Regions from separate parts of the Homo sapiens genome. Here region 1 is linked to region 2. Evidence: fine-mapped expression QTL. A gene starts in region 2. The other region holds a variant in brackets. All regions are shown on one strand. Distances are from middle to middle. Region 1 has its middle 69 kb from the start of KIF2A. Region 2 holds the start of KIF2A (kinesin family member 2A).

The links. PIP is the estimated chance that this variant, and not a neighbour inherited with it, causes the effect. A credible set is the group of variants that fine-mapping cannot tell apart.
Region 1: its variant is the best candidate, but not a certain one, in a credible set for the expression of KIF2A in gastroesophageal junction (GTEx, PIP 0.77).

What each region holds. Positions count from the first base shown.
Region 1 is chr5:62,235,386-62,238,292 of GRCh38, forward strand. No RefSeq gene overlaps it. Among named protein-coding and RNA genes, the nearest start is that of KIF2A, 69 kb to the right of the region's middle. RefSeq lists enhancers at 931-1,432, 986-1,185, 1,433-1,932. The variant G/C (reference allele first, on the strand shown) is at 1,569.
Region 2 is chr5:62,304,684-62,307,590 of GRCh38, forward strand. KIF2A (kinesin family member 2A) reads left to right here and starts at 1,523. Exons shown (of 21, transcript NM_001098511.3): 1 at 1,523-1,853. The coding sequence starts at 1,790. RefSeq lists a silencer at 1,227-2,256.

The DNA.
Region 1 (2,907 bases), 69 kb before region 2:
AGCTATTAATAGACTTAACTATGAAAAAAGAAGTTCTATGGTCAAATAACTAGGAAATGCTTAACATGATGGAGCCCTTTGTGAACAATTATGACACACATTCGCATGTTGCAGGCTCTGGGCAGCCTGCAGCTAAGAAAACTATTTAGTTTCGTTTAACTCCAACATGTCCCAGGTTTATGTGCACTTTGAGCACCTTTTACTGTATGCTTAGTAACATTTCCTTGAATACCAGCATAGGAAAAAATTGGTTTTAAAAAAGGAAGCAGGCTGAACACGGTGGCTCACACCTGTAATCCCAGCACTTTGGGAAGCCAGGATAGGCAGATCCCTTAAGGTCACGAGTACCAGCCAGCCTGGCCAACATGGTGAAACCCTGTCTCTACTAAAAATACAAAAATTAGCCGGGCGTGGTGGTGCATGCCTGTAGTCCCAGCTATTTGGGAGGCTAAGGCACAAGAATCACTTGAACCCAGGAGGCGGAGGTTGCAGTGAGCCAAGATCACGCAACTGCACTCCAGTCTGAGCAACAGAGCGAGATTCCATCTCAAAAAAAAAAAAAAAAAAAAAAAAGAAGCAACTAATGGTGGAAGTAAAGCCACCCTGACATGATAACAAAAGAGTCATTTTGGGGAAATGACCTCATAACAGCAGTTTCCCCACTCATCCAGAGGTGAGTTGGTGTACTCTCCATGTAGTGACAATAAATATATTTATTAAATAAATAAATCCTGTGTCCATGATTTCCCCACAACTCCATGTTAGATCCTGTTATCATCCATTAGGTATTGAAGTGCTCTCAGCCAAGGAGCACTCGGGGGTTAGTTCTAGATTCCGAGGTAATACTACCAGAAACTAGAAAACGAGGAGAAACAGGTGTCTGAAAAGAGAATCAGAACAGAGAACAGAATCTGATGCAAGGAACTGAAGAAAAGCAAGCTGCAAAACTGACATCTCTTGCACTGCCTCCACTCACTATCTGACTATGTAGACAGAAACATCTAGGTTTTAGGTTGGTGCAAAAGTAATTGCGGTTTTTGCCATTAAAAGTATATTTAAGAATTAACATCCCTAATGAAAGGTACTTGAAGTTTAAGCCACTCTAAATACTAATAAGATACATAGTGTTTGCACATAGAAGGATAGAAAAGCAGGCAATGAGAAAAACTTCTTTGCTGCATATAACTGTCAGTAAATGTGGAAGCTTAGTGGTTCGGAATCTAATAGTTGAGACCAGTTTTCAAAACCACTCCCAATTTCAGGGCGCAGAATGTCTTAGTAACACCCACAAGTTTCATCTAACGAATATGACTAAAGCCAGAAAGCAGCCCTGAGGTTTTTCCGCAGAGAGTCAGCCCTGCCTGGGTCATACATGCCCCTATGCAAAGTGGGCCCAGCAGCTGTCCCCTCCTGGTGCTCGCCCTGCGGGGGAGCAGAGCCAGGGTGGAAACCTGCTATGGGCAGAATGAGGCTGCGCTGGGCTGGAATGAGCCACTCCCTTAGAGAATCTAAATGAGGATAAAGAATTTCTGAACCAGCTAGGAGCCAAAACCCATCCAAGAATAGAA[G/C]TGGAAGGGACTCAAGCTTTTTAAGTTTCTTCCACAGCAATCCAGATTCCAACATTGTTTCTAAGGAGGCTTTTGTTTCCCTGGAGAACTCTAGTTTCAAAGTGGACTTTCTTGCACAAAGAGAGCTTCAATAAAATTGGTTGTGTGAGTGAGTGTTAAGTGTGAATTCAAAGAAGAATATTAGGCTGGGTCTCAGGCATACGTTACTACTACACTATGTATCGTATTAGTAATCAGAGTGGCTTAAACTTCAAGTACCTTTCATTCGGGATGTTAATTCTTAAACATACTTTTAATGGCAAAAACTGCAATTACTTTTGCACCAACCTAATACCTAGATGTTTCTGTCTACATCTCAGAAGCCAGAGGTGCCTCTTGAGAACACTGAGGTACCCTGACAAGGACCACATCCAGACAGGAAGAGCACACAGCACAGTGGCTGTGAGCGTGGGTTTTCCATGAGATAGACCTCAGTTAGAATCTCAGCCTCAACACTTACTAGCCATGCAGTCAGGGGAAATCTTGCTGTATGATCCTGCTGAGCCTTGGTTTCCTTAACTGTAGAGAGACTAAGAATCTCTAACTTACTTGGGGATTCAATGCAATAATATGTATCACAGGCCAGGCACGGTGGCTCACGCCTGTAATCCCAGCACTTTGGGAGGCTGAGGTGAGTGGATTGCTTGAGCCCAGGAGTTTGACCACCCTAGCAACATGGTGAAACGCCATCTCTACCAAAAATACACACACACACACACACACACACACACACACACACACCAGGCAGGCATGGTGGCACTTGCCTGTAGTCCCAGCTACTCGGGGGCCTGAGGTGGGAGGATCACCTGAACTTTGAAATTTGAGGCTGCTGTGAGCCAAGACGGTACCACTACACTCCAGTCTGGGAGACAGGAGTGAGACCCTGTCTCAAATAATTATAATAATACATGTAATATTTAGCATTTTACCTGGCATATCATAAGTACTTGATATATTGTAGTCATTATAAAGGTCAAATTTCTCTCCAGGACTGGGTTAGAAAATATGAGGAAAATAGATAAGTTCATAGAACTAATTAGGAAAGAGAGAAAGTTAAACTCTCCTATGACTTGATAAAATGTCTGTAGAAAAAGACAATTTCAGCAGGGTTGCATCAGATAAATTGAACCCATCCCCTGCCACATTTGTCCCTCGGCCTTTATATCCTCAGCATGACATTGAACTGATAGGACCAGAAGGTACTGGGAGAAATGTAAAGATGGGATGTGACTGAATTTGGGGTGGGTGATTTGCTTCGCAGGAATTCTTTGGTTTTTGGAGAAGAGGGCCAAACTGTGAT
Region 2 (2,907 bases):
ATTGTTCTTTTGACAGGTATACCTTCAATATGTTCAAGCTACAGATGAAGCCAGTCTTTTAACAGTTTTTTAAGGACCTACATGATTACTTACATTAGATAGAAAACTCTAGGCACACATATATCCACATAAGCATTGATGTATATATCCAGTTTCCAATTTTAAAATTTTAAATTGTATATTTGTAGTTATTGTTACAGGGAGATTATCAATGACTAGGGAAGGCCGGGCGCAGTGGCTCATGCCTGTAATCTCAGCACTCTGGGTGGTGGAGGCGGGTGGATTACCTGAGGTCAGGAGTTTGAGACCAGCCTGGCCAACATGGTGAAACCCCGTCTCTACTAAAAATACAAAAATTAGCCAGGCGTGGTGGCGCGGGCCTGTAATCCCACCTACTCGGAAGGCTGAGGCGTGAGAATCGCTTGAACACAGGAGGCAGAGATTGCAGTGAGCGGAGATCGCGCCACTGCACTCCAGCCTGAGCGACAGAGCAAGACTCCCCCTCAAAAACAAACAAAACAAAACAACAACAACAAAAAACAATGACTAGGGAAAGTAGGCCATGAAAAGTGTTGTTTCCAACCTATCAATTGCCAGTACTACAAGCAGGAGTTAGACGTTTGGAGGTTTTCACACGGTGCTATAAATACAGTTTCCAGGGCCCCGGTACACGTGGCCTTCCTGCTCTGCCAGGATGGAGAGTCTTGCTTTCCACATTGCTGATGTGGTCAGACTAATTAAATTATTGCAAAAAGACACATTCCCTAGTCAACCTTATGTGTCTGCCTTCTTCCCTTGAGTCACAGTTGTTGGCTTTACAGGCCAAGGCAAGTAAGTCTTGAACCCTCAGCAGAAACAGGGCACCAGCATCGGATGCCTCATAACCTGAACAGTTAAGGACGCCCCACCACAGAGCTTCTTTCTGAGTGTGATAAACTATAAGGCAAGACTGTAAAGGGGTGGATCTTCATTTCGATTTAGGGTAGGTGACACCTCAAGGGTGTTTCTTCCCTTCCAGCGTAACTGGATGGGAAACCTACACCAAGTGTGCTTGGGAGGGCTGCTTGGGTCAGCTACCTGTAAGTGGAAATAGGGGGTGCCACCTTCCGATGAAAACCCGGATCCCGTACTGTCAACGGAGGGCCCTTGAATTCACATCCCTCAGCCCGCTAGAAAGCCCCTGAAACCACGTGGCCTTTAACCCATTCCGGCAACAGCGCCAATTCCCGGAAGCGAGAGGGCAAGAAAGCTCGGCGCGACGCTTCCCGCGTCTTCTAGGCCGCGCGCTGAAATCAAACGCGACGCCGGCTAGCTGTGGGCCGGGCCGAGCGCTCAACGCTCCAGCGGCTGGGTAAGCCGCGGCCGCCGCCCACCCCGCTGCAGAGCTGGGCGGGGCCGCCTGGAGGCAGCGGGGAGAGGCCAGCCGAAAAGGAAGAAGAGACGCCGGAGGCGCGCTCTGCGCAGGCGCGCGGCGCCCCGCCTCCCCAGCGTCGGCTCCCCGGCGGGCGGTGCGGGCCCTCCCACTCTACCCCGCGCCGTCTCACGGCCCCGGCCCTAGCTTCACCCCGACTACCCGGCGTGCGCGTCCTCCTGCCGGCCTGCAGGCCCGGGGCCTCCGCCTGCTTCCCCACAGCTGCTCCTTGCGGCCCCGCTTGCGTTCACGCTGTCGCCCGGGCCGGCGCGGCCGCGGGCAACCGCTCCCCCTCCCACACCTACCCCGCCCCCTCCCCGCCTTTTCCGCCCTCCGGTCCCCCTCCCTCGGCCCGCTGCTGCTGCTCCAGATGAGGTGATGGCAACGGCCAACTTCGGCAAGATCCAGATCGGGATTTACGTGGAGATCAAGCGCAGCGATGGTGAGCCGCGCTGCCAGCCCCGCTGGCCCGCTCGGCCCCGTGTTCGGGTGTGCACGGAGGGGACGCGGGCGCCGGCCGCCTCATTGATTGCTTCGCCGGGCTGTGGGGGTGGGAAGGCGGCGGCCGCGGCGCTTTTGTGTGTGGCGTGTGTGCCAGTGAGGCCGGCTTGGGGTCCGCCCGGGCGCTGCTGCAGTTCTCCGGATCGGGCCGCGGGGGAGGGAAGCCGGGTGGGGAAAGGGCCCGGGTGTCGAGGGTCGCGTCTCCGGGGGTCTCTGGGCGAGGGCCGCTCGCTCCTCCTCCCGCAATCTCCAGCCCCCCCCCGGGGACACCAGCCCGGGAGGGAGCGGGCTTCGTTAGGGATGACCCTGCCTCGCGCTTCCCCTTGGTCTTTGCATTTTACCGGCTTGGCCTCTGACGGGGATGGGGATGGGGGTGGGGGAGCGGGAAGACCAGCGATTTCACATTTAGAGAACCGACTGCTGGTCGGAGGCCGAGATGGGGGGAAAGAGCCAGTTCCGTCGCCTTAAACTGCCGTCTGGTTGTCAGGCCTCCCCGGTTTCGTCGTCGACCATGCTGCTTTCTTTTTTGCCACTTCTTGGGAGAAAAATGTGGAGAATATCGCGCTGAGCCATGAATAAGGGTGGGGGAGCAATGGGAAGAAATATTCGATGGGCTTCTCCAAGGTGATGAGACTGTAAAGGGAATGATAGGGGATGGGCAGAGTCAATGCGAGGCACTGCTGAGAGAGTGGGGGTGGGCGACCGGATGTTGATATTTTCACACCCTCGGGAGAGGTAACTGAGAAAAGTGTAAGGCGAGGTGAAGACACATGCTTCATTTTTTTTTTTAAGAGCCTTAGGCTTATGTATCTTTCTCTAGGTTTCTCTTGGGGAAAATGGTTTATGACACTAGCTTGGGGTGTGGAGTGAGATACGCCAGCCAGACTGGAAATAATTCATATTGTAAAGGAATAAATGCACGGAGGGAGATAAGTAAAATTATTTTCTTTCGGTACCAATATTGAAAGAACGAGAGATGTGTGATAATCTCGAGT